2 linked regions of the Homo sapiens genome follow. The protein of the gene in region 1 purifies or fractionates together with the protein of each later gene. This does not show direct contact. Each region holds a gene or a part of one and is shown in the gene's direction. Other genes may lie near its edges. The genes, in order: GPRIN3 and NLN.

Region 1 (3,919 bases):
AGGTATATCTGCTAATACTATCTCTCCCCCCTCCCCCAACCCCACAACAGGCCCCGGTGTGTGATGTTCCCCTTCCTATGTCCATGTGTTCTCATTGTTCAATTCCCATCTATGAGTGAGAACATGCGGTGTTTGTTTTTTTGTTCTTGTGATAGTTTGCTAAGAATGATGGTTTCCAGCTTCATCCATGTCCCTACAAAGGACATGAACTCATCCTTTTTTGTGGCTGCATAGTATTCCATGGTATACATGTGCCACATTTTCCTAATCCAGTCTATCATTGACGGACATTTGGGTTGGTTGCAAGTCTTTGCTATTGTGAATAGTGCCGCAAAGTTTGATCTTTTGGCCAGTAGCATGGGCATTACCTGGGAGCTTGTTAGAAATGCCTATCCTGGGCCAGGCATGGCTCACGCCTGTAATTCCAGCACTTTGGGAGGCCGAGGCGGGCGGATCACCTGAGGTCAGGTGTTCCAGACCAGCCTGGCCAACGTGGAGAAACCCTGTCTCTACTAAAAATACAAAAATTAGCCGGGCGTGGTGGTGGGCGCCTGTAATCCCAGCTACTTGGGAGGCTGAGGCAGGAGAATCGCTTGACCCCGGGAAGCGGAGCTTGCAGTGAGCCGAGAGCGCGCCACTGCACTCCAGCCTAGGAGACGAAGCAAAAAACAAAAAACAACAACAACAAAAAACTAAAAAAGCGTTTCCTCAGTCCCTACCCCAGACCTATTGGATCACAATCAGCATTTTAACAAGACCCCCTAGGTGAGTCCTGTGTACTAGATGAGAGGATATATTTTGGATTGGTTTGAATCCCAGCTGAGCAGGTTACTACTGTGTGACCTCAAGCAAAGTGTTTAGATCATATAAGCCTGTTTCCTCGTCCACATGGTAAGGCACCTCAATGGGTTGTAGTAAGAATTAAAGAGGCTGAGGCTGTATGTAAGGCATTTTTCACAGAGCCTTCCAACAAATACCCAGTTAATAATGAAGCTCTTTTCATCGTATCATTTTGCACCATCTACAGCTGCTAACCATACTACACATCCATTCAGGATTCTGGAGCTGCTCAACAGGGAAGATTTCCAAAGCCCTCAAAGCCCTCCAAGCCCATGGGGTAGCGGGAAGGGGATGGGGACAGGAACACTGTCAGCAGTGCCTCTCCGAATACGCAGGATACTGTACATTTTGCAAAACATATTACTTATCGGATGATCTTGCTTTCAGATCTCCACTGCACGTGGCTTTATTGGAAACCTTCTGCTAGAGTCTAGACTCAGCCATGGAGTCTGGTGACCTGTGGGAGGGAGCAAGGGCCAGAATGCCTGCTAAATCGCTCTGGGTCCCCAGCCCTCTTCCTTAATCCCTTCTTAACTTTCCATCTGTCTCTGGTCTCCAGGGGTGCAGAACCACAACCCACCAGACCCCTCCTAGCTCCCGGCCCGGCGCTCAGCAGCCTGGGCTGCAACACTTTCCCCCAGGACCGGGAAGGCGGGGGAGGGGGTTTGGAGGGGGCGGAGCTCGGCCTCCTGCTGCCGCCGCTGCTGCTGCCGCCGCCGCCGCCTGCAAAGCTGTCGCCCCTCTCTCGGATGCTCAGGCTGGGCAGCGCTGGACAGATGGGTACACCCCGGGCCTGACGGATGAACAGTCGGGCAAGTGAACTCTCACCTCCAAACTGGCTCTGCGCCCGGCGGGGGCGGCGGCGGCGTCTGCAGCCCCGCGGTGGGGGCAGCCCCCTCGGTCTACGCCCGACTGCTGCGCGCCGCCTCTGCTCTTGGCATAGTAATTTCAGTTCCTGAACGCACGGAGCTCGCTCCGGGACCGGGCTGAGAAGGACCTCAGCTCGCGGGCCCGCCGGAGCCATCGGTGTGGCGCCGAGAGACGGTGCTTGGGATATGCGACGGGAAGCCCCCGCCACAGCGCAGGCAGTGGCCCCGCCGCGCCGCGGAGCCGGGCAGAGCAGGTAGGAGACGCCCCCTGCGCACCTCCGCCTGGCGGCCAGCGCGGGGGACCGGAGCCTGGTGGTGTGCTCTGTAGGGATGCGGAAGGGATTCGGTCCCACATTTTGCACAGGGATCCTTTGCCTGTTGCTCTTGTCTCTGTCCCATCCTGCGCTCTAGGAGGGGCAGTCTTTCTCGCAGGTGATGAATTTCTCTGCAAGGTCATTGCTCTCTTTGGCTCTGGCTTTGAAGGTAAATGGGAGAAGACGCCTGCTGATCGTGGGCAGGGAAATTTATAATCAATCGGGTCTGCACACTGCGAATATCCGAATATGAGGGGTGTGTGTGTGTGTGTGTGTGTGTGTGTGACATTTGTCTCATTTTCCTATGCTTATCCCCTTTAAGGTCAAAACATAGAAATATATATTACATATGGATGTATGTATGTGTGTGTATATACACACACATACATAAATGCATATGTAAATAGGTTTTCTTGAGGTAGGCAGAAAGAAGAGGAAGGGCGGGCAGGGGTTGATAAAGGGAAATCGTTGTAGAGACATGTTCACTAATAGAGGCGAACTTTGGAACCACATTAAATCAGGGTAGAGACTAGAGGTGATAAACGGTTCTTTCAAGATGGGCTTTAGAAGAGGTCTGAAGGAGCCTGTCAGCCAACACACACAGAAGATCTTCATGCTCTCCAGGCAGATGGAAACGATGTAGGCATCATTTCAGACGCAATAATGGACAGTGAAAGAGGGAAAAAAGGAGAGGTACTTAATATGCCACTGGGAAGTGAATTTTGGGTGATGGGAAGGCATCGAATCCAGACCAGGTTTCAAGGGCTTTCTGGAGGGCCATTGGGAGAAATCACCGCTTGGGGTGTAGGCAGTTCAAGGTTAAGACGATGTGAATGTCCACAAAGCAGCCGAGGAGGTGGGCAAAAGGCAAGGGCTTGGAGGGGGAGGGGAGAAACAGAGCTCTGAGCAGTCACTCAAGAAGCACCCACCTTTGAGTAAGGTGTCTTCTTCCTCTTGGTTAAAGCGGTACTTGGGTATGCTCCATCTAAATATTTTCACAACACATTTGTTTAAAGATCCATTGGACTATGTTTTTATTTTGTTTTTGCAAGGTATCTGGGTCATGGTGGGACTAGAAGAAACTGAAGTGTTTACAACACCAGCAAGATTTGGGAGAGAGGGTTGATTAAGGCTTTGCTTCATGAAATATTTACACATCTCCTGCGTGGGCTTTTGTTTGCTCTTGTTGGTGCTGCTGCATATTTTACTTTGATAATGCTTTGAGTGTACTTCGCCCGAATGTGCTTATTTTCCAGTTATAACCTATTCTTTCTTTTCCCATTGTGCTCACCATTGGCCTGCCCTGAGTAACAATTGTGGGAATAAAGGTACATGAGTCACAGCCCAAAGCAGAAAATCTCTGCTGCTATCTGCAAAAGACAGGAGTTTGCGTTAGAGAATGTTCTTTTTCGAGTTTTTGTGTGTGTTTAGTTTTTCAAGTTTTGTGTGTCTTTAATCGAGGGAATAGGTTATTGATTCAAAAGAGAAAAAAAAAACAGCAATTGCAATTGCAGGCCTAGATGTTATATGATTGAAATTTATTTTGGAAACAGCAGAGGAACTCATGGAGAGCCATGTACAGTGTGTTGTGGTGTGGTGAGCCTTCACCTAATCACTAACTAGACTTCTACGAAAATGATTAGGACAAAATCACAAGTGCATCAGCTTCACATGGGAAGTAGAGGACTGAGGCGTTGTATGAGTCAGATCAGTGTCAATTGGAGGGCAGGCTGGATTCCAGCAAGCTGTTTTGAAATTTGAGTGTTTTAATTGCCTCAAAAAAATTGCCCAATATGCTTAATTATTTGTTCCTGCAACATTTTCTTAATTATGCCTCAACATACTTAAAAGACTATATTTAGATCCAGCTATCCTTCACTGTTTGAATTTCCAGTT
Region 2 (3,819 bases), on another chromosome or scaffold:
TTAATTTTGTAGTTGCTCCCTCCCCTTTAACTCCTAGTGTAAAATATTGGTCACATCTAGATTTTACTGTAAGAGGCTTGGTAACAGCTTTTACCTCTGAGGCCCTGCATCTTTCAAATCATCATACATCATTAAGTTGCAGTATACAAGTGATTAATTCTATAGTTTAAAAAAAACTAGTATATTTTCTTGCTTATTAACATTCTGATATATTACATAATTAAAAATTCAAAGCTTTGTTTATGGATTTGAGAATCTGTAGCTGCTAGTTTTGACATGTACCATACAACATTTTAGTTTTATAGGAGGTTGGGAAAGAAAGGTAAACTCCTTCCTGATGTAAATGGTTTCCCTGTGTTTTGATATTCTCTACACACTTTGTGCACTTTCTGTGGGAGACGCCCTTTTTCTGTGGCTGGCATGCCCCACCCACTACATAGTTTGTGACCTTTGTCACAAAGTTGCTTCGTTAACCTGAGCCATTACTTTCTGTATGCAGTGAATTGACTGCCAGGTAGCTGCCAGACAAACCTTCCTGATTTACAGCCCCCAATCTCCATTCTCATTGAAGTCTCATCCATCAGATTATTTCCAAGGCTGATGCATTTTCCAATGTATGTTTTTAAATTCTTCGATTCAGAAATTAGAAGAACAAATTATCAAAATCAGGCTCTCTGTACTGATTTCAACCAATAGATTTTTTTCTCCAAATGTTTTTTCTAGATTGCATAGTACCTTATACATATGTATTGAAATACATTGATGTGATTTAGATCACCATTCCCTCCCCATCTTCCTCCTGAAATAACACCTCCAAGGTACCCATACTTCATTATTTTGAAGCATTTCATCTCCCATCCCACCCCACCCAATCTGTTAAGTCCTTGTAATTCTTTTTCCATTACCTGGCCAACCCATTTACAAAGGTCAACTGCTGACTATTGTTCTCACAGACATACCTATTCCTGCATGACCTTCAACCAGGACCCATCCCTTAATGCCTCCACCATAGAGATAGTGCCCTTAGGATTCAAAGTGTTCTGGGGAAGATTGTATGACTCCACTGACATGCCCAACTGCAAAGTCATGCATGTAGCCTGAACTGGACCCCAGTGTTCTCTGTGGTCCAACTCCATTCCCCTTATTGATTTCCCTCCAAGTTCCCACCACCTCTCTCATCTGTCAGCAGATGATCTCTCCTCTTTATTAAGAAAATTAAGATCATTGAAGCTGGCTGCAGTGGCTCACACCTGTAATCCCAGAACTTTGGGAGGCTGAGGTGGGAGGATCGCTCAAGTCCAGGAATTTGAAACCAACCTATTTGATATAGCAAGACCTCATCTCTACAAAAAATAAACAGAATTAGCCAGGTGTGGTGGTAGAAGCCTATAGCCCCAGCTACTCTGGAAGCTGAGATGGGAGAGTTGCTTGAGCCTAGGAGAGGTGGAAGCTGCAGTGAGCCGAGATCATGCTACTACACTCCAGCCTGAATGACAGAGTGAGATTATCTCAAAAAAAAAAAAATCATTGAGAATGAGTACCTTCATCTTTCTTTCTGTGTACTTCAATACTTGTCTTATTTTCTCCTGTCTCAGAGGAGATGTCTCTAGCTCCAGGAGTTCCTGGTAAGAGTTCCTGGTTTGCTGTCTTGGAAAAAAAACTTGCTACTGACTCTGATAACCCCAATCAGTGCTACTACTCTGTTCTTTTCACAGCCTAATTTCTTGGTATAAGAAGTCTTTGCAAACCTCTCTTTCCTTGCTTTTGCCCCAACCAACAGAAATGGAAAGTTACCCTTCCTCCGTAGTTACCACTGATGACCCAGTTACCAACTCCAAAGGCCCTCGTCCTTCTTCTTTACCTCCTGCTGCTTGTTATTCCTCTGTCTGTTCACAGCCCTCAGCTGGGCAATCAAACCCTTCTTTACTTCCCAGTACTCCCTGTGTGTTAGACAAGTTTATGTGTTCCCTTAGGTCTCTCCACCTTCACAAATTTATTCGTTCTATTTCGTTCACCTAAAATATATGCCTCCTTCATCTGTGCATCTCAAAAATTCCAGCAGTCTTAATTGAAGGTCTCACTCACATAACTGCATGTTCAAGAAGTCTTTGAAATTATCCAAAACCAAAAGTGATCTTTACATCCTTTGAACATATGAGTGGACTTGGAGGAGTGGACCAAGCCTTCCCCGTCACCTCCTCAGTGCTGCCACTATGTGACCACATACCCAGTACCTTCTCTCATTACCTTTTCTCTTCTCTTTTGGAGAACTGTCCCCAAAACAAATAGAAATTAAAAATCCAAAGATAAAAATAAAAAATGGAAAATAGACTAGTTTTTAAAGAAAAAAGACAAAAAAAAGTGGTCTTGAGCATGGAAGAAGGGCTTCAATAAGCTTTTACTATGTCTGCAATATTTAATGTAACTATTACCAAGTGAAAAAACATCATATTATAAAATATTTTATACCATACAATACGAATGTTGATTTTAAAGTGTGTTTTAAAAAAAAGTACATCAAAATGTCAATGATTATCTTTGGGGATAAGTTTATGAGTGATTATTAATTTTTTCTGTATTTTTCCTAGAGCTTTTCCTTATTTTTACATAGTACATAGATTATTTTAGAAGCCAGAAACAATGTTTCAAAGAGAAAAAAGTCTAACTAGGTAAAGGTACAATTATGACGTCTTACTGGCAATCATTGGTGAGGCTTCCTGGCATAAGTGTACACTGCCTCTCCCAGCCAAGCTTCGCCATCACCTCCTCTGTGCTTGCCCTTATGTGACCATATACCCAGAACCCTCTATCATTACCTTTTCTCTTCCAGCTGTCAAGGTAGCAGCCAAATTACTGATCCCTGTGGTTCCAAGGAACTTGCAAGTGTAATAGAAGCAATTCCTGCATTGTCTTCTCTATACTTCCTCTTATTCTCAGGCTTCACAGTTTGGCAGGCAGCCATACTACTCTTATTTAGACAAAGGTGCTGGGTTGAACTTAGAGAAAGCATCATCCCAACAACTTGGAGTTAAAACTTGTGATGTTGAAAACAATTTTCAGTGTTACTAAAATTCTGGATTCAGCAGTGCTGTTATTATTAGATGTCTTATGCCATAAGGCTGGTGTTAATTCCTTCCTTTACACTTTTTCCTTTCCTTTCAAATGCTCTGAGTATCATGGCACTTCCTGATCCTCTGCTGTCACAGCAATAATGGACCTGGCTCCAAAAGCCAAGAAGAATCCCTTGGCCCCTCACCCTCACACCCTTTGCAGATACTAAAAGATGATTTTTAAACAAACATTTTGTTCCCTCCTACAATATACTATTTGGGGTTTTTTGTTGGTGGCGGCGGGGGATGTTCTTCAAAAAAAAACCCACAAATATTTGCTCTAAAATAACACTTGCCTTACAAAATACAGGTACCCAGTTATTAAAAATTAATGCTTTGGGACAACAATCCTAGTCTCCAAAAAACTTAGATCATTATTATAGCTATGTGTGATGAAGAGAAAAAGAAATTCTTTTGTTGTCCCAAAGCATTAATTTTTGGTAACTGGGTACTTGTATTTTCTAATGTGAGTGTTACTTTAGAGCGAACATTTATTTTAAAAAGAAAAGAGGAAGAAGAACTCCCCCCACAAAAACAATGTATACCACGGAATACAGTGCAGCCAAGAAAAAGAACAAGATCTGAACCCAGAAGGCAGAGGTTGCAGTGAGCCAAGATTGCACCATTGCACTCCAGCCTGGGCAACAAGAGTGAAACTCATCTCAAAAAAAAAATAAAAAGAACAAGATCATGTCCTTTGTAGGGACAT

Evidence for each region.
Region 2: the proteins of GPRIN3 (region 1) and NLN purify together in Homo sapiens (affinity purification with mass spectrometry; one large-scale study listed by BioGRID and IntAct). This does not show direct contact.

Annotation. Positions count from the first base shown.
Region 1 is NC_000004.12:89,305,659-89,309,577, reverse strand, and holds the start of GPRIN3 (G protein-regulated inducer of neurite outgrowth 3), read left to right. Parts: upstream 1-1,777; 5' UTR 1,778-1,963; exon of another isoform or gene 1,964-2,192; intron 2,193-2,507; exon of another isoform or gene 2,508-3,919. UniProt on the Homo sapiens protein: May be involved in neurite outgrowth.
Region 2 is NC_000005.10:65,812,417-65,816,235, forward strand, and holds part of NLN (neurolysin, mitochondrial), read left to right. Parts: intron 1-3,819. UniProt on the Homo sapiens protein: Hydrolyzes oligopeptides such as neurotensin, bradykinin and dynorphin A. Acts as a regulator of cannabinoid signaling pathway by mediating degradation of hemopressin, an antagonist peptide of the cannabinoid receptor CNR1.